5 linked regions of the Homo sapiens genome follow. The protein of the gene in region 3 purifies or fractionates together with the protein of the main gene of each other region. This does not show direct contact. Each region holds a gene or a part of one and is shown on either strand. Other genes may lie near its edges.

Region 1 (6,379 bases), on a different chromosome or scaffold from region 3:
GGCAAAGGAAAGCACTTTTTCCCTTAAGTGTTAAAGATCCAGGAGAGAGTCACTGGGAGCAAGTGGATAATTTAAATAGGTTTAAATATGATTCTGCACCATAGGAGGGTTGTGGGGTAGGGTAACCTGCCTCCTGTGATTGCTGTATATGAAAAACAGTGCTACACCAAGTTCCTTGGCCATGGTGCCTCAACTGCATTCTGCACCAGGATGAAGGTGGGGCTTTTATTTTTGTGGCCAAGCGCTGCCCAAAGTCCAAGAGAGATGAACATTTAGGAGAAGTTCAAATGTGTTTACCTGCCACTGATGTCTATTTAAAAGCAGTGGATAGGAGACCCTTACCCCAGCCATCATGCATATATAAAGAACATGCTATGGCCAGAGAGATACCTAAAAACTGGGCACACTTCTCTTCTTGCCTTACATACTCAATGAGCTTTGGGGAAAGTACTACCAGGAGGTCATTCTTAGATAGAACACCTGATGTCCCCATAGAGCAATGTCTTTTGGGACGCTGAGATCATAAAACAGTCCAATTAGAGTTGGATCCAGGGTGTTTTAAAAAAAAAAAAAAAAAAGCAGCAGCAGCAGCAACAACCTCCTGGCTCTCCAAAACAGCTAACTTGGGTTAACTGACTGATGGGGAAGTCTGAAGAGAGTCTAGCCAGGATTTGGATTTGATTCAACCACATGCAGACAATTCTAAGTAAACTGGGGAATGCTATGTATTCTCGGGATTGGTAGGTAGGTACCCCAATGCCTCATCTTTTTCTAGCCCCTTGGCATGGCCATTCTAGCTATGAGTCAGGCTCTTGGAAGTATAAGTGCAAATGCCCAGCCCAGTCCATACCTATAAACTTCCACAGACCTTTGTGGCCATGTAGGTAATTCTGCTTTTATAAGGAAAGGAGCAAGGGGGCAGGAGAAGGAGGCGTGCAGGGTAAAAATATTGTTAAAAAAAAAATCACTGGGTTAATGTTCCCCATTTTCACATAGACAAGGTTTTCTTTTCCTCTTTCCAGAAGCAGGTTCTTTGATTCAACAGTGCCAACTGCAGCAGCCTCTCCTACCACTGCCCTACAAAGGACTCTTTTTTTACCCATAGGATCTTCAAGTGGCTACAAAGAACAGACACTAATTTGCTATTTTCCATCTAAGTATATAGACTCAAGGCCCATGTCTTACTACTTTATGTTATTACCAAATTCCTCATCAAAGTAAGATTTTACTATTCTTACTTTCTCTAGATCAATCAGCTCTTTAAGCTGGAACTGGCTATAGATCTCTCATTGTGTCCTCAAAGAGAAGGTGAAAAACCCAGAGGATCTTTCCAAAAGTGAATGTCCCCTCAATTATAACCAGGTTTGATGTGGGGCCAGAACTCTTCTTGGCCAGGAACGTTGGTTCTGTGGTGGCTTCTCCCTCTCTCTGCTTCTCAACATAAGGTAGCAAGTCACTTTCAAGAAAGAGAGAGAAGTGGCCACAAAAGTCCCGGTGTCATATGTCTCACGCATACCTGCTACAAGGAGAGGATTCTGAGCCAGCTGGTCAGCTCACCCCATCACTATGAGAAACCAGGTTGGAAGTTAGTTTCCTCTTTTTTCAAGACACAAAGAAAAGGCCAGTGTGAGTGGTCCCCACACTATGTCTGGAGTTCCCATGCTCTGGGATAAGGTACACTGTGCCAACAGCTACTCATCAGAGTCAAACCGTGAACAGGAATCAACTGCAACTCTGACTTCCAAACAGTGTGATGGGCTAAAAAAATAATAATTTGCAGCTTAGTGTCACCTGGCTCCTAACAGCAAAACATAAGAAGGAAGTCCCAGGCTGCTGCTTTTAAAGAGGAGACTAATTAGCAGGCCCAGTGAGGAGTACACTGCTGCAGTAGAGGGCTGTTATCAGAGAAGCACATGCCACGGTTTTAGAAAAGAAAAAGAGCTGGAACTATGAAAATATCCAAGCTTACATGCCACCCAACAACCAAAACACACCACCACACTGCACCCATGGCAACATTCCCATCACAACAAGATGACACCAAGTCACAGTTAAAGGAAGAGGCTGGGCAGACACAAACTTAAAACCATAGAGGTGAAGGCAGCTACTTAGAGAGCTTCAAACAGAAGAACAGAAGAAATAAAAAGTAGTTAGACTGGGGAGAGAAACAAAAATAGAAAGGCACCAGAGAAGAAATCAGCAAAAGTATAGCAGGAAACCTACTACAAAATCAAAGGGGAGGGAAAACCATTTCAACACTACCCTCCTTGGACTGCCTGGTTTTATGAGTTTTAATTTAAGCTTCCCAGTTCTCCCTCCCCAACTCTTCCCAACACAGATGATTTTGGACAGTCACGGATTTCCTCAAGTTCTTTGTTCCTGAGAAGAAAGACACAGAGAAGGGTTGGGGGATAAGGGAGGCAGAGAGAACGGCAAAGAAAAGAAGAAAAAAAGTTGCCACAGATGTTTTCATACACTACAACCAGAAGGGTCATGGGATTGAAAAAAAAACGAAGACAAGGGGTGGGGTGAGTGATCATACTGGGGAAGAGGGAAAGGATGCAGAAGGGAAGGGTCATTGGGCCACCTCTAATGACTACAGTACTACTACTGTAGGGTGCTGGACTCACTCTGAAGGACGCTTATGGTGGCCTGGGCTCGAATCCATGTTATGGAGGGGTTTTGCCTCAAGTCATTCCTCTTGGGGTCGTTGCTGGCCCTGCACTCGTAAGTCCCAGAGTCCTCCAAGGTGAGCCGGGTTATTCTCAGCACACTCACGCCGTTTGACCCGTAGGCGGTGTTTACGGTGACACGGCGCTTCCGAGCACCGTCCCACAGCTGTCTGAAAGACTCTGCCCGGTTGACTTCTGCGTACCACCACTGGATCTCTGGCGTGGGGCTCCCGACCACGTCACAGTACAGCTCAAAGGCGTCCCCCGTGAGCTTAGTTTCTGACATGGGCGACTTGACAAACCCAGCTAGAGGGAGGGGGAGCAGGAATGCAGTGACAGGCCAATCAGAAAAAAAAAAAAGAATCAACAGGTGTTAATAGTAATTTAAAGAAAAGAAAAGAAAAAAGCAAATGAGTTGCAAAGAACAAAAAAGGATTCATTTTTAAACTATAAAGAGACAGTACAGCAATTCATACAAGCTTTTAGAAGAAGAACCACACCCTGGGAAGCTTATGAAGCAAAGGCAGGCTAATTACAAGCTGGGGCAGCCCAGGTGCTGGCCAGGCAGAAGCAAGCCCACTGGAAAGCATTTTAGCAATGGGCCCAGCTGGTAGGAATGAGAAAGCCTCAGGTCTTGGGAAGAGCCTCTTTCCTTAGAACACAAACCATTTATTACCTTTTTAAACTCAGGCAAGTGATGAAAGATAACCAGAAGAGGCAGTAGTTTTATATGCCAAATCAGGATCTCTCTTTTGGATGGGCAAACGCTTTGTTAGAAATGCAGTGTCTTTTGCAAGCCTCAACAAGAAGTATTAAATGACCTACTGGTGCCTTCTCTTGGGATTCAGAGTTCAAATTTCAACTGAAAGAGTAGCAAATTTCTCTCTCACACAGGATTCTATCCTGGGTTCGATTAGACTTTCTCCACCTCCTATTCTTCCCTGGGCCTATGGCAAACAAACAACCCAGTTGTTTAGCGTTAGGCAGCCTCTTCCTGAATGCAGACCCTCAGGAGAACAAGACAGTCTGTACTTCACACCACAGTGAGATATTAATACTTTGTGGGTCAGCTCAGAAGTGGGACCAACAATACCAGCAACCCAACTCACTGCCAGCTAATGGAGGGACTGTGCCCTCCATAACCCCATAGATCCATTACCTAGAAAAATCTGAAAAGCTATGGTATTTGACAGGCTCCATACAGTTGAATTGCCTGGCTTCTAGAAGCCAGCTCAGAAGAATGAGAAATGTACCCTGATGAATTAAACTAAACACTAGGGTGAAAGCCAGGCCTCAACCAACACTCTTAGGAACTGCCCAGGAACTAAAGTTGATGCCTACCTCTAATTGCCCATAATTTGCTTGAGGTTACACTTCCATAAGACAAGGTGGAAATGGCAGAAAGAGTTAAAAAAAAAAAAAATCCAGGCTTAGTTTAAAAACTTGGAGTTAGGTCCATAGGAAACAAAATCAGAGTGCAAGCATACTCTCTCTTACCCTTCCACCCCACCTAGGGTTCATTCAGCATTTCTACTGATTCAGACAGTATCCGAAGGTATAAAGAGAGACACTAAAAGAGGGCATTCTGATTGGCTTGGAAACGTCCCCTGGGAGGCCTGCTGCATAAGCCAAGCCAGCCCCTGTGCAGTAAGCAGGGAGTGAGGTCAGGATCTGCCAACATCAAATTAAGAACATTCCAGAGGAAAGGATGAAATAAATGGAACTGTTTTCCTACAGTCCAGAAGCCAAGGATGTTAACAGGGCTAGCTGAAAATGGAGGTTACTAAGTGGAAAAATTCCTGTTTACATCCATAGCAGTATTTGCCTTTGGTGATAACCCCACACCATGGACTAAGAACATTAATGGAGGTACTATACTTACTCAAGTAGAGGCCAAGACCTCCAAATTCATACTAGTCTTTCAATTCCTGACATTTTCAGACTCTGGGGAGCACAGGAATGCAGTGATTAACAGGCTTAGACTAAACGTTCTGCCTTTAATATGCCATTTTAAACTACCTCTTCAGATCCAGCATGCATTCCTTGTAAGGAAATATCTACCAGAGGCCCCAAGAAGCCCAACAGATGTCATTCTCAGATGCAGGAGAAGCTTTAGAATTACAGAAAGGAGCCCCCAAGCCCCTGCATGAAGAGCTGAGCTCACTGCCCAATAAAGTGGTATCCAAGGAGCCATGTCTCGGTCTCACAAACTACCACCTGCCCACCTGTCAAAGTCAATGCCAGCTAATATAAACAAAGAAGTAAAGGAGGGCCGGGCGTGATGGTTCACACCTGTAATTCCAGCACTTTGGGAGGCTGAGGCGGGAGGATCATGAGGTCAGGAGTTCAAGACCAGCCTGGCCAGTATGGTGAAACCCCGTCTCTACTATAAACACAAAAATTAGTTGGGCATGGTGGTGCTCACCTGTAGTCCCAGGTACTCGGGAGGCTGAGACAGAAGAATCACTTGAACCCAGGAGGCGGAGGTTGCAGTGAGCCAAGATCGTGCCACTGTACTCTGCCCTGGGCGACAGAGCGAGACTCCGTCAAAAAAAAAAAAAGAAAGAAAGAAAGAAAGAAAAGGAAGGGAGGGAGGGAGGGGAAGTAAAGGAAGTTGGTTTTATTTATTTTACTACTGGCTCAATCACCAGAGAAAACTGGATATCAGTAAATCCCTGAAATGCAGTAAAAGTATTATTCTGTTTTAATCATATTCTTGACCATAAGTGGTAATCACAAATGGTCTTATCACATTATCTGTGAACTTGGGGAGTTACAGCCTCTCAAATGCGGTAATTATGTACTCGATTATGCCCTAGAACTGTTAGTGGATTTCTTTTGTACTTTTTCCCTTCTTCTGTATTGTACTTCAAAGCAGCCTTAGACTTAAGCCTGTTTATCAATCTGTTGACAATGCTAATGTAAAAAAGATGCCTGAAAGTATCCTTTCACCAAGAATCCATCCAATTCCACTGTAACCCCAAGTCCTAATAACACACAAGTCACAGGTAGCTGAGAAACAGTCTGACTATGATTCCCACTGCACACAACTGGGCGAGTCACTCAGCCAGATCATGCCACCCTGGGCAAGACTTCCTGCTAAGAGTAAGGAATGCTGATCTGAGTCAGTTCAATTTTCTACCTGTATCAAGGAAAATGGGACCAAGACAAAAATGTTCTTTGCATTAGTAAATTATAGGATGTATATTTAAATGAACTTTTAAAACACAAGATAAAAAACCCTTTAAAATGCCAACAATGGTCTTTGAAGGCCATTATTGTTATTACCATTATTAGACATATAGAGTAACAGTGACATTTTCTAAGTATGCATTATATGTTTAGGCAATGTGCTAAGCACTTTATTCATTATCATATTCAAAATTCATTTATTCATTATGATAAGTGCCATTATAATTTTTCTTAAAGATGTGGAAACTAACGTCCAAAAAAGTTAAATATTTTGCCCACGGTCACAAGCTAATAACAAAGAGTCTGGCCTGGAATCCAAAGTGAAAGCATGGTCTCTTAACACTTACCACAACTGTGGTCAATGTGTCTCACTGGCCTGAAAAGGTTTTTGTAGTTACTTAAGTTAAAGATATGCTTTGTCACCACTTAGTTTAATTAATAAATTAATTAATAATAATTCCTGGCCACAAAAAGCCAGGAACCTTTGACCAATTGTGCAACATACTATGATCACT
Region 2 (6,379 bases), on a different chromosome or scaffold from region 3:
GGAGTCCTTTAAGTTCTTTGTTCATAGGTAGCTCATCAATCCCTGACTAGGCAGTGTGCAGATGTTTGTCACTGACATGTAACCCCTGTGGTCTTGATTTTTTTTTTCTTAAGTGATAGCATTTTATCTTCTCCCTCCTTATCATGCCTGTCTGCAGTATACCTTTATAGTGTTGATGTTGAGGAGTTTGGGTAGTACTGAGGAATATATTTTATTATTAGTTTCTTGGCATATTCAGTTTTGTTTCCAAAGATATGATCAATCTCTAATATTTAATAAAGCTAAATCTAGGTGGCAGCAAGTTGAGGTTTAAAAGATTTAGGTTTACCTCTTGCGACTATTGCTAAAAGGAAGACTGTAAAAGATTATGAGAAATACTGGTTTCATCCTTGTTTAGGAATTTGGACTAAATAAAAATGGCTAGAGGGAGTTCCTTTAAGTGAAATGTCTTTCTTCTAGAGAAAAGGTGTAAAATAGTGTTAAATTGATTTGTCGATTTGGGCTGTGTGAAGCAGGGAGGCAGGACTAGATAAGTAAATAGGCAGTCCTGTTTTCTGTACTCTTAAATATACAGACTCTACTTCATCGCTCTCTAAATGTTCCAGATGGAGCCTTTTTTCAATAAAAGCCCCAGGACCTCAGGAATGGTATACCAGTAGTGGGCCTGTCAGTCTTGCTGGGTAGAATTTCACCATTGTGCTTCCTTTTACCACTAGTAGAGTTGGCCTGATGTCCTTCAGACATTAATTAAAGATAGCTGGAGTCCCAGCAGGGCACACAAGGTAAGGCTGGGCCACACGGAGACCCTTCCCTGTCTGCTCCCCATTCTCCTGTAGCTAAAAATAGCCCTGAAAGGGTGGTGCCAGGAATACAGAGAAAAGCTCTAAGAAGTTGGGGCTGTTTGCAAATTCATCCTTATTTTTGAAACCTCTGGGCTAGAAATTGAGGCTGTTCATTCTTTTTGTTTTCACTCCATCTTTAGTTGAACCCATTTCTCCTCTCCCCTGCATTTACCCCCAGCTGTTCTCTAAAAAGACCTCATGTCTCTAAAAAGAGAACAGGTCTGGGGCTTACCCTTTGCCCCAGTTTGTGTTTTCTTAGTGAAAATAAGGTGACCGTTGGTGCTTTCGAAATACACGACTCAGTTCCTTGGTTAAAATATAAATGTGACTGCCCAAGGACAGTCTTGGGCACGAAACTGGGTGTGGGCACCGCTCATACCACACCGTCAGGGGTTTCTCAGACTTCTTTTTTGAGCCACATAGCCTTCAGAGTCATGCCGACCACAGTGGGACCGAAGGGAGGCAGAGGACCTGCACTCCCACCCTCCTCCCAGTAACTCAGGGAGCCTATGAGGTTTCCTTGTTCAGCAATGTTGTCCTGTCTGGCCATCTTAGGACTTCTAAGCATAATGCCAGAACCCAAACAAGTGAGAAGTTCTGTGATTCACTTACAAACACTTCCCTTGAACTATTTAATATGTTCCTTCTCTTTGGGCTGAATAAAAAACTATTATTGTATTACCCCATGTATTTTTAAATCAAAGTTTAAATATCAAGTTAGATTTAATTTGCCATATATTTTTGAAGCTCTGTATCATTAACTAAAGGATTATAAAGTGGCAGAGTAATGCTGAGCTCTGTTTGACAAGATTATATCCGGAAGGCAGACGTGTATCATGTCTCATATTTATACAACACAGACTAGAATCTGGCCGCTCTGCCGGTGTCTGCAGGAGGGCTGGGTAGGCCTCTGGTCTTAAGTGAGTTATTTGACTAGCTACAGAGACAGGTCAGCCAGCCTCGGCAGTTCCTTGTGCCAGGATTCTGAGAGCCTGGTGGATGGGCCAGTCTGCCCCAGGAGTTGCACCAAGGGGTGGGACTGAGCTGGGTCTGCTGAGGAAGCTGTGCCAGTGAAGGGGCAGCATGCCAAGCCAAGAAGCCGTGGGTGCAGAGCCTCATCGCAGTGGGAGCTGGCCTGTCGGGACCAGCATGGGCTCTGGAGGGCCAGTGTGTGGGCATGGAGGAGTTTTGGACAAGCTATTTTAACCTGCGTAACGCTCACTTATCTTTGGCCAAGTGGGGGCACTTCCTCACGAGGTCAGCATGAGAATTAAATGTTATAGTTCATAGTAGCTAGTCACTAAATGTTTATTTTTGAAAAATAGATGGGTGAATTTAAAAGGAGATGACAACCAGGCATGGTGGCACATGGCTTTAATACCAGCTACTTGAGAGGCTGAGGGAGGAGAATCACTTGAGCCCAAGAGTTCAAATCCAGCCAGAGCAACACAGTGAGACCTTGTCTCTTTAAAAAAAAAAAAAAAATTAAGGGCGCTCTCCTTTGAAGGACAATTCCAGTAATCTTATCATCCCTCCTGGCAACCTATTGCCACCAGAATTGTAGGCAAAAGTACAAAAGCTCAAGGAGTCTTCAGTCTAGCAATTAAATATCTGCTTTAATCAGTTCGCCCTGTATTGCACACCGGAAGTAATGGCAACTGGGATAAATGTAGATGTTGTTTGGAGTCAATCGTTTGTTGTTGTTCACATTGAAGAGTGTATGTAAACTGTCTCCTCCTGGCTCCCCTCTAACCCAAATCACGTGTTCTGGTGCAGATCACTTAATGTTTCTGAGCTTCAGTTTCCTCATCTGTAAAAGTGAGGTTCATTATTTCCTAGGTACTATTTTGTTAGTTGACTTTTTTAAAAAAATAAGAGTAGTCTTAAGTATCCAGGAAACTTTTAGACATTGTTTCAGGCTGATTTTAATAGTGTTCTCTGTCTACTTATGTGACTGTTTTACGGGAGCATGAAAAGCCCTTATCAGTTGATGTGAAAGAACATTTATGCACGTTTAGTTCAGATCAGCAATCACGCATTGCAGGCTTACCTCACTAGGAACTTCGAATGTAAAAGTGATTAATACCTGGCCTGCTGCTGCCTGGTGAGGGTTCCCGGGTGTTCTGAAGCTGTGGTATGGTAGACAGCTGGAGCGACTTCTCTCTGACCCAAATTAATAGGACTACCAAAGAGATAAATTATGACAGTTTTTTAAAGATGGAGTCTTGCTCTGTCACCTAGGCTGCAGTGCAGTGATGCGATCTCGGCTCACTGCAACCTCTGCCTCGCGAGTTCAAATGATTCTCCTGCCTCAGCCGCCCGAGTAACTGGGATTACAGGCATGTGCCACCATGCTTGGCTAACTTTTTTATTTTTTTTAGTAGAGACGGGGTTTCACTATATTGGCCAGGCTGGTCTTGAACTCCTGACCTCAAGCAATCTACCCACCTTGGCCTTCCAAAGTGCTGGGATTACAGGTGTGAGCCACCGTGCCCAGCCTCTGATATTGATCTTATAGCTTGATTAAACTTTAATTTGAATGAGTTTTAGTTCACTTGTCATTTCTGTACCTTTTCTTATGACTTATCTGTCACTGTGATTTGACTTTCCTCTTCTGCTAAATAAATTGTTATTTAGCAGGTAAGGGGACAGTGAAGGAAGGGGAGATAAAATCATTAGATTTATTCATAGGACCCTCTAAAAGATAAACTAGATTTTATTCAACAAATACGTATGTACCCATCATCGTCCAGGCACTATTCAAGATGCTAGTGTTGCATCAGTGGCCAAAACAAAGATCCCCACCCTTGTGGAGCTTGCAGTCTAGCAGGGTGGAGACACTCAATGAAAAACAAACACAGGAGGTAAGTTTTGATGTATGTTGGAGTTTGGTATGTGCTAGGAGAAAACAGTAGAGCAGGGAAAGAGGGCATGGGAGGCAGGATGAAGTACTAGTAAGAGTGCTCAAAGTAGGTCTCATTGAGAAAGTGAGATTTAAGCAGAGACCTGAATCACTCTGGAGTCAGGAGAGTCGTCCAAGCAGGTATCTCGGGGGAGAGCTTTTCAGGCAGAGGGTTTAGCTAAAGTAAGGCCCTGGGGTGGACATGTGCCAGGCAGGTTGAGGAACAGCAAGGCCAGGTGGTTGAAGTTAAGAGGATCCTAGGAGATGAGGTCATGGAAAGTCAGATTTGCAAGGCTTTGCAGGTCACTGTTAGGACTTGGAATGAAAGCCCGAGTCAGATGGAAGCAATTACAGGATTTTGAGCCAAGGTATGACATCCAACTGGACATATTAACAGACTTAGTCCAGAGCAATGAGAATAGAATGGCGTGTGGCAGTCAAAGGTGGATGGAAGCAGGGAGCTAGTAGGAAATACTCCAGTAATCCAGGTGAGAGATGCTGGTGGCCTGGACCAGAGTGGAGACAACAGAGGTGGTGGTCGGGGAGCCGGGGGGGGGGGTCCCCCTCCAGCTATATTTTGGAGGTAGAATCAACAGGTTTTCCTGAGAGATGGGATTGTGAAGGATGTGACATGCAAGAGAAAGGGGAGTCATCAAGGGTGACTGTAATTTTGGCCTGTTTGGCCTGGCCTACAATAAGAATTGTCAGAACAGGGGTGGGGAGCAGCAATCAGGAATTGAGTTTTCTCCTTTTAGGTAGATCAGGCTCATGCATTCTGCTCCATGTCTCCCCACCCCAACACAAGCACTTTCTAGCTTCAGGTCTAGTCCCCTTCCTTGGAGTATCCCCCTTGGATTGTAGTCCTTTTGTGAATAATTGTCTGTGCGGTGCTCAGTTATTAGTGTGTGGGTTATGTTTTTATGTTCCTGTGTTGTATAGCTGTTAACTACTGTTTTATACATGCATAGCAAGTACTTAATGAATGCTTGCTGAATTAATGAAGTAGGCACTCAGTAGCTACTTGGTTGATCTTGAAATAGATTTATAAGATGTTTTTGTTTTTCCATTTATATGATGATGGATAACAGTCTAAAGTGTACAGGAAATAAAGATAGAATCTAGATGTATTTTATGGATGAAGTCATTAACATGTGAGTGATTTAAAAGTCTTAGAGTTTTGTGTTTATGAAATGACTTTACATAATTCATTGGGGAGGGGAGGGGAAGTTTGAAAATGCTTAAAGTGCCAGAGAATTAATATTGTATACCTCATGATTTCACTTTATATTGATTCTTGGTGTTTAAACTTACGCATGCATACACGCACATACACACACACACACACACACACACACATTTTCCTCATTAGTAAGTTTTAGTTATAACATGTTTACTGGGGTCTCGTTTGCTTAATTCAGAGCACAAGATCCAGAGAATACATTCACCTTGTTGCTTGACTTGGATACACACGGAGCACTGAGCTCATGTGTAGAGCAGTAGGTACTTGCCCTCATGGAAGGCCCACTCAGTTCCTTGAGAGAGGTAGAATGTGTGCACAGAGGACTGAAATAAAAGGTAGATTTAACTTAGTACTGCGAATAAGACAGTGCATGGGAGTCCAGGTGATAGAGAGGAATTGTCAGTTTGTGTTAGAGGCTTGAGTGGGCAGCATTTGAATTCCCCCTTTGAAACATGGTCACAGTGTGACTTTTGGAGGAGTGTAGGTGGAAAGCGCACTCCTGATCTTGAAATGCTTTAGGATAGGTTTGATAAGCATACAGTAATTGATAAGCAAGGTACCCGGTGCTCAGGTCAGTGAAGGGAACTGAAGTGAGGAGCTGTCACTGTACCGTATGACACACAGTCGTGGACATGCACCATGATGTGAAGTAGGACAGAAGGAGGAGTAATTATGGGCAGTGGATAGGAAGGTTCAGAGGTGGCTTCTGCCAGTCTCAGTCTAAGAAGAGTTTTGAAAACAAGTGGAAGTTTGCCAAGCCGGCAGAGTCGGGGAAGGGCAGTCTGGGCCGAACCATATGGGATCCGTCTTGGCTGCCTCTCAGAACCAGCCGCTGAGGGGATACAGCAGAAAATGGGGCCCCACCCTGGATGTGAATCGGAATGTCTGTGCTGCCTAGACATTGGTGTTCTTTGAAAAGCTCCTCACATGCTTTTGATGTGCTGCTGGGTTTACAGCTGCTGTTGGAGGTGATAGCGGAAACACGGAAGATCAAATGGGGTGCCGACATGGCCAGGCCTGCACTTAAGATGGACAGGTCCTGGTGGCAGGTGTAGAACGTGGTTGGGGGTTAAGTGAAATGGAGAGTAATTCAGTAATTCAGACAAGACGTGATAACATCTTATTGGGGGCAGTGTCCGTGGCGGTGGGAGGAGAACACAGAAGGGGCTGCTTGCCTGCAGAGTAGGGTAAGGGATAGGGAGAAGTACAAAATGGCCTGCAGATTAGAGTCTCTGGGTCACCAATAGAGATGCCTGGAGATGGCCTGGAGCGGGGTCTGCAGACTACAGCCCACGGGCCAGATTCACCCAGGCGCCTGTTTGTTACAGTGCTTGAGCTAAGAATGGTTTTTGTATTTTTAAATGATTCTGTGTTTAATGGTTGTATAAGTCCCTA
Region 3 (6,379 bases):
CCGCCCCGTCCGGGAGGGAGGTGGAGGGGTCAGCCCCCCGCCCAGCCAGCCGCCCCGTCTGGGAGGTGAGGGGCGCCTCTGCCCGGCCGCCCCTACTGGGAAGTGAGGAGCCCCTCTGCCCGGCCACCACCCCGTCTGGGAGGTGTACTCAACAGCTCATTGAGAACAGGCCAGGATGACAATGGCGGTTTTGTGGAATAGAAGGGCGGGAAAGGTGGGGAAAAGATTGAGAAATCGGATGGTTGCCGTGTCTGTGTAGAAAGAAGTAGACATGGGAGACTTTTCATTTTGTTCTGTACTAAGAAAAATTCTTCTGCCTTGGGATCCTGTTGATCTGTGACCTTACCACCAACCCTGTGCTCTCTGAAACATGTGCTGTGTCCACTCAGGGTTAAATGGATTAAGGGCGGTGCAAGATATGCTTTGTTAAACAGATCCTGAAGGCAGCATGCTCGTTAAGAGTCATCACCACTCCCTAATCTCAAGTACCCAGGGACACAAACACTGTGGAAGGCCGCAGGGTCCTCTGCCTAGGAAAACCAGAGACCTTTGTTCACGTGTTTATCTGCCGACCTTCCCTCCACTATTGTCCTATGACCCTGCCAAATCCCCCTCTGCGAGAAACACAAGAATGATCAATTAAAAAAATAATAATAATAAATAAAAAATAAAAAAAAATAAAAACTTAAAAAAAAAAAATACAAAAAAATTAGCCAGGCGTGGTGGCGGGCGCCTGTAGTCCCAGCTACTCGGGAGGCTGAGGCAGGAGAATGGCATGAATCCAGGAGGCGGAGCTTGCAGTGAGCCGAGACTGTGCCACTGCACTCCAGCCTGGACGACAGAGCGAGACTCCGTCTCAAAAAAAAAAAAAAAAGAGAGTTGGGGATCAGTGGGACTCATTCTCCCACCCCTGCTCTGCAAAGAAGGACCGACTACACATAAATCCATCTCCCCGGCCGGGCACGGCAGCTCACGCCTGGAATCCCAGCACTTTGGGAGGCCAAGGTGGGCAGATCACGAGGTCAGGAGATAGAGACCATCCTGGCTAACAGGGTGAAACCCCATCTCCACTAAAAATACAAAAAATTAGCCAGGCGTGGTGGCGGGCGCCTGTAGTCCCAGCTACTCGGGAGGCTGAGGCAGGAGAATGGCGTGAACCCGGGAGGCGGAGCTTGCAGCGAGCGGAGATTGCCCCACTGTACTCCAGCCTGGGCGACAGAGCGAGACTCCATCTCAAAAAAAAAAAAAATTCCATCTCCCCAAGGACAGGGGCAGATGGGAATACGGTCCCCTCACTGAGTAGCCCACCTTGGAGGGAAGCACGCCCATTTGCACATAACACAGGGTCACTTTAAACTTCGCAGAAGCTTCCAGGAGTGTCCCTCCTTTCCTATCTAGCCAAGGAAGGAAGGCTAACCGTGCACATGCCGTCCTGAGATAAGAAACTGCACACACAGAGACACTCCCCAGACTCTGAAGAGCTGAAAATGCAATTTCAAATCTCCTTTTGGTGCAAAACACGGGCACTAAGTGGCCGGTTCTTGAAAGACAGGTCCACCCCCAGCCTGGACTGGAATTTCTCAGGAGCTGGGAGGTGAAATTTCGGTCCTGAAGATAATGAACTGTGCCCAGTAATGAATATCATCTGACTCTCCTTGACAGCTTTGGCCAGAGAGCTGCTTTTGGCTTTTGGCTGAGAGTGAGGTTCCCAGACAAGCCTTGCTGTTCCTGCAGACGCCGGAGGGTCTGGGTGCTCCTTCCTGCTGTGCTGCCGGTGGGTCACCGAAACAGCTGGACTCAACAGAGCACCGGGCTGAGCCAGCAGCACTCAGGCCTCAGAAACAGCTGGAGGCAGGGGAGCTCTTCTGCTGATCAACCGCAGTGCCCTCTGTTAGGAGCAGACACTGAGGCAAGAAAACGGATTTCACCCTAAAGGCACCTCCCTCTGGGTAAATCCAACGGGACTTGGGGCATGAATACCAAGGCAGTCAGTCCAGATAGTCCTACAAAATTATCTTAGGAACCTCAGGTTTTCCCCCAACATTTTGTATTTTTGTTTGTTTGTTTGTTTTTGAGATAAAGTCTTGCTCTGTTGCCCAGGCTTGAGTGCAGTGGTGCAATCTCAGCTCACTGCAACCTCTGCCTCCTGGGTTCAAGTGATTCTCCTGTCTCAGCCTCCCAAGTAGCTGGGATTACAGGCACCCGCCACCACACCTGGCTAATGTTTATACTTTTATTAGAGAGGAGGTTTCACCATGTTGGTCATGCTGGTCTCGAACTCCTGACCTCAGGTGATCCGCCTGCCTCGGCCTCCCTAAGTGCTGGGATTACAGGCGTGAGCCACCATGCCCGGCCTGTATTGTATTATTTTGTATTATTAAATACTTTACACATGCACAGAAAGGACTATAAAACTTCTATGAACACTCGAACAAAATTATTTACCAAACACGTGTAACCACCATCCAGGCCAAGAATTAAAGACAGCCAGACTAGGCACGGTGGCTCACACCAGTAATCCCAGCACTTTGGGAGGCCGAAGCAGGAGAACTGCTTGAGCCCAGGAGTTCAAGAACAGCCTCAGCAACGTAGTGAGTCCCTGTCTCTACAAAATAAAAAATAAAGACAGCGGCACCCTGGAAACGCTCCTTCTGGTTGCATCCCTGACAGATCTGGGTGCCTTCTTCCCGCCAGAGGGAACTACCAGCCTAATTGGTACGGCATCTTCCTCGATTTTCATTCAGTCTTATCCCTTATCAGGCTCTGTAGGGTCTCCCAAAGCATTGGGATTACAGGCATGAGCCACTGTGCCCAACCCGGGACAAGTCATTTTTTTGTTTGTTTTTTGTTTTTGAGACAGTCTTGTTCTGTCGCCCAGGCTGGAGTGCAGTGGCGCGATCTCAGCTCACTGCAACCTCGAGCAATTCTCCTTCCTCAGGCTCCCGAGTAGCTGGGATTACAGGCGCATGCCACCAAGCCTGGCTAATTTTTGTATTTTTTTTTAGTAGAGACGGGGTTTCACCATGTTGGCCAGGCTGTAATCCAGCCACCTCAGCCTCCCAAAGTGCTGGGATTACAGGCGTGAGCCACCGTGCCCAGCCTCCGGGACAAATTTTAATATGGATTCCATTTAACAAATCATTTTCTGGAAAACATGTGGCAAGAATATCTCTAACTGAAATTTTTTTTAACTGAAATTTTATCATATTAGCACTTTCGAAGCACAACTTTATATTCCTTAATGCACTATTATACAGACACTAGGTAGAAAATTACGAAAACTAGCAGTGTAGAAAAATGTCAAGTGAAAGGAACTAACTATAAAGACGCATATTCACTATGATGATAACTACATACAAAGCAATGCACAGGAAAAAAGGAAATATATTAAAATGCAACGGCTGTTAAAAGGGGTGGAACTACAGGTGATTTGTCTATGAAATTTTTGCGATTGTGGTTGTATCACTTGTATAACAAAATTTTCTGAAAGCACCAATTCACACAACAACAGCGCATTACTGGGTCTGATGACAACTCACTCATCAGGCTCCTGGTGGACACCCGCACAAATCAGGTTTTGGAAGATTCCTGGAAAATAACGTAACTGGGCTTCTTGAAAGATATTACCTAACCTGAGTTTCTCCGGCCCCTACAGTACTTCCTGGGGTTAATCAAACTTTGTGTAATTTCACTTCAGATTTCCATAACACACAAACTTCAAAATGCTTATAGGGAGCTAAAAAGACCCCCATTAAACCCCTGCTACACACAACAGAAACAGCAAAGTGCCTCCTCCCACCCAGTCAACAGAAAACAGCAGGAAGGGCAGACCAGATCCTCCCGGAGCTGAACACACACCCCTCCTCAGTCCTCCCAAAAGGGACCCTACCTGATATTTTAATGCCAATATTTTCCCAAAAACACTTCTCACAAAGCACTTCTGCCCTTTAAGTCTGGTTATGTGATTTTTTTTTTTTTGGTGATTCTATAGTAGAAATATGCAGAGCGTGGCCGCGCTCCAGTTTCTCAGAGGATGACAATGGACCAGGTGCAGTGGCTCACGCCTGTAATCCCAGCACTTTGGGAAGCCAAGGCGGGGGGATCACTGAGGTTCCAAGTTCGAGACCAGCCTGGCCAACATGGTGAAACCCCATCTCTACTAAAAATACAAAAATTAGCCAGGTGCGGTGGTGGACACGTGTAATCCCAGCTACTCGGGAGGCTGAGGCAGAAGACTCGCTTGAACCCGGGAGGCGGAGGGTGCAGTGTGCCGAGATCGCACCATTGCACTCCAGCCTGGGCAACAAGAGCAAAAACTTTGTCTCCAAAAAAAAAAAAAAAAAAAAAAAAGGTGACAGTGACAATGCTGGAGACCGACAGCCAGGCTCTCCATGCACTCTCGGGCTCTGTGCCTCCTACCTGCAGCCTCCAAGCTTCTAATCACCGCATGGCTCCTCTCAGACACAGCAGGTCCTGTGAAACCACCCACGTCCAGCCAGCACCACCATCACCCCCGGTCTCTTCCCACTACCCCAGCAAACAGGATGGGCAAACATCTCTTTTTGTGATGCTTTTCTCAGGAAAGACAAAATAATACCAAAACAGAATTCCCCTACCCGGAACACATCACTTTCTTGCTAACCACAAATTCTGGCAAAATCTGTTCTACATAACAGTGATTCAGTTAGTTCCTCTTTCTTCAAATTGACACGTTTTACCTTGCAAATTGTGTATGTGTGCGTGTGTGTGTGTGTGAGAGAGAGACAGAGAGAGAGAGAGGATGAGCAAGTTTAAAGACCAGTAACAAAACATATTTGCAGTGTTGTCAAGTCTTATCACATAAGAAATATAATACAAAAATTTATAAAAATGTAATTCTATTCAAATATTTGAGACTCTGCTACATAGCAGATAGTATTCTAGATACTGTGGTTAAAGAAAAATAGGTTTCTGTTTTCTGGAGAGAGCCAGAATTAAAAAAAGAAAAAAGTAACAAAACTATATAAACAAAATAAACTTGTAAAAAAAATAAAAATAAGTTTGCTCATCAGGAGTTTACTACCAAAATATGTGTCATGGCCAGTCACGGTGGCTCACACCTGTAATCCCAGCACTTTGGGAGGCTGCAGCGGGCGGATCACCTGAAGTCAGGAGTTCGAGACCAGCCTGGTCAACATGGTAAAACCCCGACTCTACTAAAAATACAAAAATTAGCTGGGCATGGTGGCACACGCCTGTAATCCCAACTACGGGGGAGACTGAGGCAGGAGTCACTTGAACCTAGGAGATGGAGGTTGCAGTGAGGCTAGATGGCACCACTGCACTCCAGCCTGGGCAACAGAGTGAGACTCTGTCTCAAAAAAAAAAAAAAAAAAAAAAGGGTCATGGAAGGGAGCGAAATGGGGCAGAAGGTTTTGTCCCTAATGCAAACAATACTGTGGGGCATAATTTAATCACCATAAAATGAACAAATTTTTTTTTTTTTTTTTTTTTGAGCTGGAGTCTTGTTCTGTCAACCAGGCTGCAGCGCGGCACCATCTCGGCTCACTACAACCTCTACAACCTCTGCCTCCCAGGTTAACGCAATTCTCCCACCTCAGCCTCCCGAGTAGCTGGGATTACAGGCACTCGCCATTATGCCCAGCTAATTATTGGATTTTTGTACAGACGGGGTTTCACCATGTTGGCCAGGCTGGTCTTGAATTCCTGACCTCAGGTGATCCGCCCACCTCGGCCTCCCAAAGTGCTGGGATTACAGGCGTGAACCACCAGGCCCAGACACAAATCTTTTTTTTAAATAGGGATGGGGTCTCACTCTATTGCCCAGGCTGGCCTCAAACTCCTGGCCTGAAGTGATCCTCCTGCCTTAACCTCCCAAAGTGTTAGGATTACAGGTGTGAGCCACCACACCCTGCTCAAAATGTATAAATAGGCCCAGTGGGGTGGATCACCCCTGTAATCCCAGCACTTTGGGAGGCCAAAGCAAGTGGATCACATGAGGTCAGGAGTTTGAGATCATCCTTCCTGGCCAACATGGCGAAACTTCGTCTCTACTAAAAATACAAAAATTAGCCAGGTGTGGTGGCACACGCCTGTAATCCCAGCTACTGGGGAGGCTGAGGCACAAGAATCACCAGAACCAGCCGGGCGCGGTGGCTCACGCCTGTAATCCCAGTGCTTTGGGAGGCCAAGGTGGGCAGATCACCTGAGGTTGGGAGTTCGAGACCAGCCTGACCAACATGGAGAAACCCCGTCTCTACTGAAAATACAAAATTAGCCAGGTGTGGTGACGCATGCCTGTAATCCCAGCTACTCAGGAGGCTGAGGCAAGAGAATTGCTTGAACCCGGGAGGAGGAGGTTGCGGTGAGCCGAGATCGC
Region 4 (6,379 bases), on a different chromosome or scaffold from region 3:
CTGCCACTTAATCTAGGGAGGTCTCCTCTCAGTCCCTCGGAGAGACCACCGCCCACCTCCCAGGACTGGAGTACAGAAAGAGATATGGATGTTAAACTGTTAACACCAGTGCCTAGAGCATAGAAGGTGCCTAAGAAATGTCATCTCCTCCCTCATTCTCTTTCTTCTTTGTCCTCTGTTTCTGCTGGATTAAGTAGACAGCTGGGTCCCTGCTCTGTGGGTGGGGCATGAGGGTACAGGCAGCTTCCCAGCCCCTCTGCCTTGAGAGGAAGCCAACAGTGGCTGAGCTCTTGCCCAATTGAAGGTTTGCTCCAACCCAGAAGAGCCTGAAACATCTCTAAGTCTCTTCTGTCTCTAGCTCTGGACCCTCAGGAACCTGGAGAGGAATGAAATGAATCCAGGAAGGCAGAAGGGCCAAGCATCCTGAGCTCTGGCAACAGCCTGGAAGGGTTCTTCCATTCCAGGCTTTAATAAAAAATTGTAATCGGCTGAGCATGATGGCTCATGCCTGTAATCCTGGCACTTTGGGAGGCCGAGGTGGGCGGATCACCTGAGCTCAGGAGTTCAAGACCAGCCTGGGCAACATGGCAAAACCCTGTCTGTACTAAAAAAAAAAAAAAAAAAAAAAAAAAAAATACAAAAAATGAGTCAGGCATAGTAGTGCACACCTGTAATCCCAACTACTTGGGAGGCTGAGGCACGAGAATTGCTTAAACCTAGAAGGCAGAGGATGTAGTGCGCTGAGATCATGCCACTGCACTCCAGCCTGGGTGACAGAGCGAGATTCTGTCTCAAAAGTAAATAAATAAATAAAAAATAATCATAGCGCCTTCATTTAAAGTTTACACTCAGTTCTCCAAGCATTTACACCCACCAGATTTAGTCATGATTTAATAAGGGCCCTATTTCACCTCCCTATGTTACAGATGAGGAAACTGAGGCATGATATCTGTCATTACTTATCAGATGTCATCAGACTAATTTCGCCTGGGCCATTCCCACATGGCTTTTCCTTGTAAATTTTACCACCTCCGCCAGTACCCAAACGGCATATATAGCTTTAAATAGAATCTTTCCAAAAGTTCTCTTGACCATATTCAAATATTTTTTAACTGCTTCACCTGTATCCAGAAACCAAATACCAAAAATACAGAGAGTAACTCACAAGCATGACAGATTCCCAGACAGTCAGTCCCCTCCCACAAACCATGCAAAGATTCCCCTGCTGTGAACAGAGATGAGCTTGTAATTCACAAAGTGGGGCCCCAAGCAAATTGGGTAAACCAGAGAAGATGCCAGGATTCTGACCTGCAGTTCAGATGGCCATCGGGTGACAGCTTCTTCTGTCTCAGCCCACCCAGAGCTGATTCTCTGTACCCCTTATTCATGTGGACAAAAGAAACCCAACACCGGGGGCTCACACGGCACTGCAGGATACTGAATCAGGAAACGTCCAGGAGGCTCAGAGAGGAGAACTCACAGGCAATTTATTTTCAGCAACTACAGTTTGTCCCATGAAAGAACGGGCATATGACAATCTTCCGGGCTGTCCTGGAATAAACACAGGCTTCTCCCTCTGTTCAATATATATTTGGAAAATCTAGTTGTTGAAGTACCAATACGTATCAAAGCTATTGGAATTAGGGGCTTCACTCTTGTTTCACCAGTTCTTCATTTTGGCTATTTATAAGGCTCTAATATGGAACCCTTCAGGCTGCAGGGACATCCCTGAAGGCAAATAAGACATCTGTGGCCCTTTCCCAGACTGTAGGCAGAAACACTGGGTGGTTTCAGGACAAAACTCAATAAAATGTGGCAACCCTTGTCTGTGGCCCCCAAACCACCAGCCATACTGTGCCCACTGTTCAGTCCAGCCAGTATTCCAGGTAACCCATCAGGGCACAGCTGTGGTGGGCTGGAAGCCACTGAGGTCCCTCCCTACCTGAAGACTCAGACATTCCCACGACTGTAGGCAGGGAACCAGCATGCTGGGTGGCCTGAGATTCCAAGGGAGGGTAGCTGGTTTTATCCATTTTTCAGAGGATCAACACTGAGGCTCGGGGAGGTGAATTACTTGCCCCAAATTCAAGGCTACGGGCATACCCTGAGTGTGTTAACATGTGCTAGGCCCTGCTGATGTGCACCTGGGTGGGGACGCTGGAGCACATGGGATGGAGAGTGCACAGTTTCACTGAAAACCACAGCGTTTGTGCCTACAGAGGGTTCTTTTTACCATTTGAGGTACTGTGTTTTCTTTAGAAACACTGCAGCTACTGTTTTTCTTTTTAATTTTCTTTGGGATTTTAACAATGCACGTATGGAATAAACGAATATCACAGCTAGAAGGAAACTCAAGGGCTAGCCAGTCCAAACCCTCACCTTAGATGAGAAAGCTGAGGTTCAGAGACAGAGTGGCTCACCCATGGCTGCAGAGCAAGCCAATGGCTTCAGATACAACCAGGCTCATGTTGCCGCCTCCTCAGTACCGGACACACCTGTGCCTGCACTTTCAACACAGGCCAAGCCACTGCATGGGCTGCTCAGTGGTAAGCGCTGGGCATCATTTTTCCCCAGAGCTCGGCTTCAAGGCAAAGAAGACTCCCTGGGAAGCTCCTGGGTCTCCGTTCTCAAACTCTTCTGGCCCCTCGGGCACCCACCATAGAAGGAGAGTCGTCCAGCGTCCCTAGTCATTGAGTGGTGGGCAGAAGGACCAAACCCTTTCTGCTTCCCCACAGTATCTCCTAAACAGACAGAAACTCAACTGACATTAGTCACAATCTGTGTCTGAGTTGCCCCCCTTGTCTCAATTCAGGGCCTTCTCAATTAAAGTATTGCTAAGCAGAGCCAGATCTGATTCAGCAAACCTTTAGCCAAATGTCATACTGGCCCACGGTCATCCTCTACAGAGCATCACGAAGCAGTTAATCCAATTTGAGTAAGACTAAAAATCACATAATGAATCCCTAGAAAAACATGTAAAACAATAAAAGTTATGTTAATTATATATACTTAGTCATTGGAGAAACCCCATCTGTCCCTAAATGGTCAATGAAGACAATACTTCTCTAGTGTTAATAATTAGCTTATCCTTGCCATAGAGACTAATGGAAGCTCTCTTCTCATGATTGCTAAAACCACAGTTTCCTCTACCGTGGTAAATTACAAGAAGCATACAGACTACAGAGCCCCGAAGGGTGCAAACTATCACCAGATGCAACGAGAGACAACAGCTCCCTTCCAGTGATCCCTACACACTCCTAAAAGGTGTGCAGTAAATGAATGTCAGTAAATGGAATGATATTTTCAATTTGCCTGGATATAGTAGGAGGTTTGTCAATCATTTAGTAAATAAAATTCTTCGATTCCGCTTGTCAAAATTCTTAGGTTCTGCTTGTCTTTTTCAGCTACCAGAGAATTCCAGGGGGCACGGACTTCTCACTTTCCTGGGCGTGAGCCCTGTTCTCTGACACATAGCTTAACAGAGCTTTTGCTTCTCCTAGGAATGTTCTAATTCCACAGCCAGTTTCCTCTGATTTCAGAAGCAAAGACTCATCAAGCCCTCCCTACCATCCTAACCACATGCAGGATGGGAGATCTCTTCTCAGAACAGCCGGTTTCCCTGTCCATAGAGAAGCTGAAAAGGTCACTGCTTGTTCCTACACAGCCCACTTCAGACCCACTGGCTGAAGCTAGCAAAAAAATAAAATAAAACCATGGTAGATTTCGTAGAGATTTCATGCCCTGTGGCTTCCTCCTTGTCGTTCAGATGTTAGCTAAGATTTGCAAGCAAAAAGAACTGCTTTCAAATATACTAAGTAACTATGGAAATAAATTAAGCCATTGACGCTGGCTTGATAAAAAGCAGATCACTGAGACAATGACAAGCTAAGAAGGAAGCAAGGGAAACGGTCCCCAGCAATGAAGTTAACTCTTTCCCAAGCCAGTCGTTTGGTGTGGAATATCTTTTGGTTCTGAAGATGCAACTATTATTTCAACCTTATGCTAAGCAAGACCACAATGCCATATCGTTACCTGACTGAGGGAAGAGAGAAATGTAAACGTGTTGTCCCATTGTTCATGTGCCTGGAACTTTCCTCTTATGGACATATATATCTAAAATTTGCTTCTTAGACCAAATGATGACCAAGTATCACTAGTATAATTTCTGGTACCACCTGCACACAACTGCAATCATGAAATGAATAGTTCAGCCAAAATTATAAAATAGGAGGCAAGAGGTTCCAACATGGAAATCAGGTCAATCCAGCAACCTCAGGCTTTCTTGGAAAGTGTGCTATTGGCCAGGTCATCACTACACACACCCAAATCAAAGGTTTTTGCCACCTAACTGGTCATATATTTTCAGCAGAAATACAGGATCTGAATAACAAATGAAACAGGAAGAATGTGCATCCTATTAGCAGTTAAATGAACCCAAGAATTGTTACTCTATATTTTCAGGGTTTGGTGTGAGAACTTATCGAATATTTAAAAAAAACAGACAGGGCCGGGCATGGTGGCTCACGCCTGTAATCCCAGCACTTTGAGAGGCTGAGGCAGGAGGATCACTTGAGGTCAGGAGTTCGAGATCAGCCTGGCCAAATGCTGAAACCCCATCTCTACTAAAATACAAAAAAAATTAGCCAGGCATGGTGGCATGTAGTCTCAGCTACTCAGGAGGCTGAGGCAGGAGAATTGCTTGAACCTGGGAGGTAGAGGTTGCAGTGAGCCGAGATAGCCCCACTGCACTCCAGCCTGGGCAATAGAGCAAGACCCTGTCTAAATAAATAAATAAATAAACAGGCGGCCTACATTTTGTGACTCCTACCCACAAAAGCCACACACATGGCACCATCACGACTGTGAATAGAGGATTCCAGTTATGGTGTGGTGTGGTGTAGAATGTCTCGATTCAGAGTGGGTCCCACTTCAGTTAAAACAAGCAGCTTTGGAAAAGAATAGCTCTGCCCAGCCTGACTACAGGAAGCTTTCCCCACACATCTTTAGGGATGCACGAGGCTGGACCAGTTCACATCAGGGACTGGAAAAAGACTGAATATTTCAGGGACCAGGGAGGTTCCATGTCCACAGGAATCAGGCTGATCTTTTCTAAACTCTCTGCTCATTGATTAAAAGTAGCAAAATCAGCAACTCACTGGGTCTCCAGCAGTTCTGCCTGGTACAACCAGGAAGAGCCCAAGTCAGTGCAAGAAAGACAGATTTTGAGCTGCATTCTTTATTTCTAGTAGCTAAAGGTACAAGCTGTATAATTGTAAGCAGGTGGGAAGAACAGGAAGCGGGGAAGAACAAAGCTTGAAATGGGACAGTCGGAACATGTGGCTACAGTCCTGCCACTGTTGTGGTAAATGCTTTCTCCTCCTGAACTGCAAACTCCTTTGCCTATAAAATGCTAGGACTGGCCCAAAAGCTTTCAGGAAAAGTCTCTGCAAGCTCTGATGCTCCATATTTTTAACTACTCTTTAATCAGAAACATATTAACCAATTTTAAAAAGCCTTTAAACACATTTGTTTACAACACTGAAGACTTGAGTCATACATCTTGCTCATGGAGGATGTGATTGGCACAGTTTACATCAAAAGACTGTTTGCAATGGCTCACAAGTTAACTCCTTGAAGACAATTAAAGGCAAATGGAATGCACATTTGTCCCTTCTCTGAATCCATCTGAACTGCGGTGGGAAGCAGAATCTTGGAGTGTCCAGAAGAGCTGCCCAGTCCCCAAATTCATATCTACTGGGCTTGGAAATTATGAGACAAATTACAAATCAGGATCACAATATGAAAATTTATTTGCTCGCTGAGGGCGGTGGCTCACGCCTGTAATCCCAGCACTTTGGGAGGCCGAGGTGGGCAGATCACCTGAGGTCAGGAGTTCGACACCAGCTTGGCCAACATGGTGAAACCTCGTCTCTACCAAAAAATACAAAAAATAGCCAGGCATAGTGGTGCACGCCTGTAATCCCAGCTACTGAGGAGACTGAGACATGTGAATTGCTTGAACCCAGGAGGTGGAGGTTGCAGTGAGCCAAGATCACACTGCTGCACTCCAGCCTGGGTGACAGAGCAAGACTCTATCTCAAAAAAAAAGAAAAAAAAATTTGTTTGTCCTTCCATATTACCAGGCAGCACTAGAAAATCATTTTCAAATTTGCTCGGTAGCTGGACAAAACAGTTGGGGATTACAATTTTGCTCTAGATAATTTCTAAAGTGGATTACTCACCATGAGAATAGACTAAATTTCACAAGTCACAAAATGGAAGATAATGTTTTTGAAGTCCCAAACATGAGCCTGGTGTGGCTACAGCCTCAAAGCCGTTGGAGTATTTAACAGGGGAAAGAGCTCACTGGTTTTAAACA
Region 5 (6,379 bases), on a different chromosome or scaffold from region 3:
GCTATTAACAGGAAGGAAAACATTTTTCTTACCTTAATGTCAGCCAGAGATGCCATTGCCCACGCTATTGTAGATCGCAGTCCAGCTGTCTTGATGTAAGCTCTGCTGGCTAGGGAAACCCTACAAAGGATAGAATCTGATTATATATTATTACACATTGAACAACAAGATATAAAAATGATTTACCTGTCCAAATCTGAGAATCATTTAAACATATTCATCCAACATACACTAAAGTATTCCCTAAGTTAGACAATGTTTCAGTCTTATTACAAAAATTGCTTCTCTAATGGGCACCTTGTCTACCCAGCCAGTGTTGAATTTCAGAAAGGTAAATTTTTAGACAACTGAAATTTACACTCTCACGTATTTAATGTATAAAAATGTAATTACACATGAGGAAAATCTTTCTTATACTTCCCTGTCTTCCCATACAGAGTAGACCTTTTTTTGCTATTTGAAGTCATGAAGGGGAATGTACTATTTTGTGATATAAATGTAGTATGGGAAGTAGAACTGAAGGGATGCTAACCCTTAAAATCTGTTTTCTATAAAAAGTCCCTTTTGTAGGTTTGTTTTTTGGTTATTTGCATCTTTCCCAAAAGATGAAATGAAGCATGACATTGCATTGTCTAAAATAATTTACTGGATGATGGGCCAAAGCAGACATCTCCCAAATGAGTTCACTGGTCTCCAAAAAGCATCAGTTCACACTTTATCCTCCACCTCATCAATGCCACTATCACATCAATGTTTCCAGATTTGATAGAAATTTTCAAAATGTCATCTATTATTTCTGTCTTTCTAATGCAATGAACAAGCAGAATCTCCTTGGAAATTACAACTTTCCAAGCTTTTCTAGTTCACTTCTACAATTTGTTGGTAAGGTACGAAGACATGATGTCAAGAATTTGTGTGGGTTTGTCTTGGGGTTGGCTTCTTCCAAAACCAGCAAAAGAGGTCTTCTACGAACATTACGGAAAGCCATGATTTTCTTCAAACCCTCCTTAAGGTTGTTCAACAGAATTCTAGGTATGTGAATATTAAACATTTCTTTCTTTCACCATTTTGCCTCTCATCTTTCTTTGACTTTAACTTATCCTGTTTTTGTATTTATTGCAAGCCTCTTAAAATCTTAGAACTAAATGATATACCCCTTTAAAATAAAACAGTGTAATTGTATACTTGCTATTATAATGAGGAAGTTCTACATGGCAAACCCATGGGAGTTTGGCTTTTTAATAAAGTTTTTTCAAGAAACAACAATTCACATTGTAAACAGTACTGTATATATACATTTGGAATGAGGGATGTAAACTGGCAGGTAGAAACACTATAAAATATTTTGGCCAGTGAATTTTGCTTCTACGGGGTAAGCTTAGCAATTATCTTGCTATAAAACAGTTTGCACTCTAGATACCAAAGTTATAAAACACAGTTTGCATTCTAGATGCCAAAACTATAAAACAGAGTTTGCATTCTAGATACCAAAAAGGGAGACGCAGTATGGGAAACCAGCTTTGTCCATATATATGAAAAAATGCTCTTCTAAGCAGCAGGAATTTATATGGAACCTTTCAAAGTTTCAAAAACTATGTATATATTTCTGCTAATAGAAGTTTTTGTGGGACATAATTCTATTAATATTTGACAAAAGTGAATGTTCACATTTTGCTTAAACCTGGGCAAAATTATCTCATTACTTCAACAAAAGGGCCCCATTATATCAGTATAACAAAATTATTCAGAAGAAGGCACGTTCAGAAATAAACTCCTTGAAAATAAAAATAATGCTTTACTTTCAGAGAACCTAGCTAATGTACACGGTTCAAAAATAAATGTGGTTTTTGATCCTCTTCTCTGCATGTGTGCATTTTTTTTTCTCTTGTACACCTTGTACCACCAAGACAAAGACGTCCTAATCTATATCTCTAGCCTAGACTTGTTACCTGAACCCCAGATCTTTATCTTCAAATATGTGCTTGAACATTTTTATGTGGAAGATAAGTAGTGCAAAGTCAACAGGTATAAACTGAATACACTATCCTGGATTTCATATATTGATACATTTCTTCATTTTCTTGTGCCACGTACTATCCATATATTGGGTACCATACTCTACCTCTTCAGTCTACACTTGTCACCTGAACTCTAGATCTGTAACTTCAAATATCTACTTGGACATTTTTCACTGAATACACTGTTTTCTTTCCCTACATTTTGTATCTCAGTGACTAATACCAGTATTTACTAATTGTTCAAATCAGAAATCTGAAATTATTCTAGACTCCTTAACTATTTTTTGATTTCATGGCCTTTTTGTTACCTCCAAGAGTTTAAATCCTCTCCTTCTCTCTTTTTATTTCCCTTTCATTTAAAAATATAATTTTCTTGGTAATTTTTTTGAAATCACAAATCTGATCACATCACTCTTCTGCTTCAAATTCTTATTGCTTTAAGGATAACATCCAAGCTGTTTAACATATTTACAAGGCACTTCATGGCTTGTTTCTAATTTTCTACCACTTTCTCTATGTCCCATTTATACTGAAACTACCTGCCATCCCCCATGTAAATCAAACTTCCTTATACATACTTAAACAAGGCACTTCATGGCTTGTTTCTAATTTTCTACCACTTTCTCTATGTCCCAACTACACTGAAACTACCTGCCATCCTCCATGTAAATCAAGCTTCCTTATACCTTGTGCCTTTGCACAGAGATTCCTTGCCTGTAATACCCTTTCCTTCTCTTCTCCATGCGGCATACACTTTCTTATTGCTTTCAAGTCTCCTCTTAGGGACAATCCTTTATCTTTCTGCTCACAGGTCCGTAATTAGAGTTAGTTTCTCTTTCCTAACTCTAATCAAGCATTTATCACAGATCTGTGCTAACACTGGATTGAACTGTTTCAAAAGTTGAAATTTATTCAATGCTTACTGTATCCTAGAAACAGCAGGAAAGATTTTCACGTGGGTTATCTCATTTAATCCCAAGGACGAAGCTATAAAGTAGGTACTATTATTTTCCTGATTTTATAGCAGAGAAATATGATAACTTGCCCAAACTTGCAGAGTTATAATAATTTGTGGAGAAGATAGAATTCAAGTCCACAGTTCTTATCTGCTATGCTATACTGTAGTAGGTGATGTGTACAGAGTGGCAACAGCTATATACAGTTAATGCTTCATGGGGCTATTGATATCCAAATGGTTTTTTCCTTTAAAGAAAGTAAAACTCAAATATGAACAATGTCTTTAGGAACTTAGGACAAATTTTTATGTGATCCTTTAACTTCATGGTGCTCTCTACTTTGTTTCATCATTTCAGACTTTCTTCTGTTGTTAGGGTCACCAGGTTGCAGTTTCTGTTATCCACTGTCACTTCTCTTGTCCAGTGCTATCTGTTGTGCAAGTCTTCATGTCTCCCTTTTCATGTCCCGGTAAATTGTTCTTTTTAGCCAACACTCATCACTGAGACTGCTTCCTTCCTACACTGAGGTAGTCAAACTGACTAAACACAGAGCATCTGTTGTAACCTCATTTTCAACTAGTGCTCATTCAAGGTCTCAGTCTTAATTTTCAGATACATATCTTTTATTTGTAAACTTCAAGGTACACTATCAATTATTATTTGAAATGCCATGGCATGACGTCTTGAATGTTTCTAGCAAGCATTAAAATAATTTTAAATAATCAAATACCTTTTAAAAAACATTAATATAAAGTTATATTAGTTAAATAAGAAGCACAAAATTAAGCATTTTTATATATAATAATTTAAAAATGAGTTATTTTATTTGGTGGTAAGAATCTAATTAATACCACACTCAGCACTGCTACGGGTGAGATACTCTTCCTAAATTTTTTTGTTTTTTTGAGACAGAGTCTCACTCTGTCACCCACGCTGGAGTGCAATGGCATGATTCTGGCTCATGGCCACCTCCGCCTCCTGGGTTCAAGTGATTCTCCTGCCTCAGCCTCCTGAGTAGCTGGAATTACAGGTGCCTGCTACCATACCCAGTTAATTTTTGTATTTTTGGTAGAGACGGGACTTCACCATGTTGGTCAGGCTGGTCTTGAACTTCTGACCTCGTGATCTGCCTGCCTCGGCGTCCCAAAGTGCTGGGATTACAGGTGTGAGCCACCGCGCCCGGTCCCTAAGTAAATTTTTTAGATACTTAGGCTCACTTTTTGGGGGTCAAAGTATTAAAAAAAAAATTAACTACTTTATAAATTTAAAAAAATATACATTTTATATTTTGCTTGTTTTGCTAGTGTTTCCTACTTTTGTCTTGGTGATCATCAATAATTATACTTAATATAATTGCTAAAATATGTCCATCTTTTCGTTTTCTCCACCCTTTCTGTCTTTAAAATTGTCAAAGAATTTAAAAAAACCATATAGGCAAAACTGTTCAAATTAAAGGCACTGGAGTAGGGCAGCCTAGAAGCCTTTTAGGTATAGGTATAGGGCTGTGAAAACCATTTAATAATAGAACTAGATATAATTTTCAGTATTAATCATGTAATCAGTAGATTACCATGACCAAATATTTCCCAGCTCTAACTGGTCAGTTCAAATCATATCCACTAAGTTCCGTGAAAATACTTTATTGTCTTAAGCAAAGAATTCAAATGCTTTGCCTTTAGCCTTCTCTGTTATATGAATGCTTCATTCATGCTGTAAATAAAAAACACAAGTTCTTAATTTAACCATCTGTCTTATGGGACAAACCGGAAGCTTAGAATATCTACCTGAACACAGGAATCCCCACCACAGAGTAAATGTCATTTAGATGTATAAAGATCTGAAAGAACAAACACAGAAGTTAGAATGGAACAAGAAACTTCATTACCAAATTACTGACAATTTGAAATTTCCATTTTAAACTTACATGATCTATGTTTTAAAAAGAAACTCCAAGGCCTTATTCATCATATCTAGAAAAATGTTCTATAATCTTTTTTTTTCTTAAGCAGAAGGAAACTAAATTTTAAGTACATTTCATAGAAAAATTCTGAGGTCAATTTATTATATAGGAGAGTCATGTTACAAAGAACTCAAAACCAACTTTCTTCCTAGAGATTCTAGGAATTATCATAAGTGGACCACGCTTTTCAGTATTTTGCGTTGAGAAGATTTTCTAAATCCACCCTCATTTTAACCTCAAATAGGATGCGAGGCCACACAGGACTATCAGAGGCTGCAAATACTTTCAGGGTAACAGAAAACTTTGTTTAGGCCAAATATATGGCAGCAAGGGTGCTGTTTTCTCTATAAGTTTCTGTCTTTCTTTATTTTCTTTCTTCTGTTAGGCCATGAAGAGTATTTAAGCGCCCCACATTATAATTAGTAGCCAACATAAATTTTAAAAGCTAGAATCTTACTTTTGTAGCCTGATAAGGTTTACAGAATATTTTAAATGCTGTTATGAACCTCAAGAATATCTGGTCCCTGATACTCGCACCCCAAGATAACTTTAAATATTAACAGCTTAATCAGAATTATTCCAATATTGATCAATTTCATCAAGAAAAGACTTACCTGGAGTGATTCCATTTGGTCAATTTAATTACCTGATTAACTGATACATCACAGCTAAACTTCCCAATTTTACATATTATGCATTTTAGCAAAACTATTTATTAGAATTGTTTTCTATTGACAATTTATTCTAAAGATACGACATGTTCATATATCAAATGTTATTAAGAATAGCCTCTCCCACTATAAATGTTTTCCTATCAATTTTGCAGAAGGAAATTTGTTGAGATTTGATTCCTCTGTCAATTTTTTAGTCACAAATTTTACTACGTGTGATTTTTGTGTTGCCAATTTTGTGTTAATTATTTGTATCCATAATAGCTATTATTAATTGCATTAAATGGCTGATAGGAATTGAATTTGCTATATTTATTTATGAGATAATCTATGAGAAAAACAATTCTGAGACAATGAGATGGACTCAGGGAGATGGGGACGAGAAAGCCAGAGAGAAGATGATTAAGAATTGGAAAGGGGGCCGGGCGCGGTGGCTCACGCCTGTAATCCCAGCACTTTGGGAGGCCGAGGCGGGCGGATCACGAGGTCAGGAGATCGAGACCATCCCGGCTAAAACGGTGAAACCCCGTCTCTACTAAAAATACAAAAAATTAGCCGGGCGTAGTGGCGGGCGCCTGTAGTCCCAGCTACTTGGGAGGCTGAGGCAGGAGAATGGCGTGAACCCGGGAGGCGGAGCTTGCAGTGAGCCGAGATCCCGCCACTGCACTCCAGCCTGGGCGACAGAGCGAGACTCCGTCTCAAAAAAAAAAAAAAAAAAAGAATTGGAAAGGGGCAGATAAGAGAATGATACTCGTATGTCAAAACATTCTTGGG

Evidence for each region.
Region 1: the proteins of SNX8 (region 3) and NPTN purify together in Homo sapiens (co-immunoprecipitation; one large-scale study listed by IntAct). This does not show direct contact.
Region 2: the proteins of SNX8 (region 3) and SNX18 purify together in Homo sapiens (pull-down; one study listed by IntAct). This does not show direct contact.
Region 4: the proteins of SNX8 (region 3) and SLC18A2 purify together in Homo sapiens (co-immunoprecipitation; one large-scale study listed by IntAct). This does not show direct contact.
Region 5: the proteins of SNX8 (region 3) and THUMPD2 fractionate together in Homo sapiens (co-fractionation; one large-scale study listed by BioGRID). This does not show direct contact.

What each region holds. Positions count from the first base shown.
Region 1 is NC_000015.10:73,594,392-73,600,770, forward strand, and holds part of NPTN (neuroplastin isoform b precursor), read right to left. Parts: intron 2,979-6,379; coding exon 2,631-2,978; intron 1-2,630. UniProt on the Homo sapiens protein: Probable homophilic and heterophilic cell adhesion molecule involved in long term potentiation at hippocampal excitatory synapses through activation of p38MAPK. May also regulate neurite outgrowth by activating the FGFR1 signaling pathway.
Region 2 is NC_000005.10:54,523,067-54,529,445, forward strand, and holds part of SNX18 (sorting nexin-18), read left to right. Parts: intron 1-6,379.
Region 3 is NC_000007.14:2,303,309-2,309,687, forward strand, and holds part of SNX8 (sorting nexin-8), read right to left. Parts: intron 1-6,379. UniProt on the Homo sapiens protein: May be involved in several stages of intracellular trafficking. May play a role in intracellular protein transport from early endosomes to the trans-Golgi network.
Region 4 is NC_000010.11:117,246,391-117,252,769, reverse strand, and holds part of SLC18A2 (synaptic vesicular amine transporter), read right to left. Parts: intron 1-6,379. UniProt on the Homo sapiens protein: Electrogenic antiporter that exchanges one cationic monoamine with two intravesicular protons across the membrane of secretory and synaptic vesicles.
Region 5 is NC_000002.12:39,761,299-39,767,677, forward strand, and holds part of THUMPD2 (U6 snRNA (guanine-N(2))-methyltransferase THUMPD2), read right to left. Parts: intron 4,812-6,379; coding exon 4,759-4,811; intron 121-4,758; coding exon 33-120; intron 1-32. UniProt on the Homo sapiens protein: Catalytic subunit of the THUMPD2-TRM112 methyltransferase complex, that specifically mediates the S-adenosyl-L-methionine-dependent N(2)-methylation of guanosine nucleotides, most probably at position 72 (m2G72), in the U6snRNA of the major spliceosome.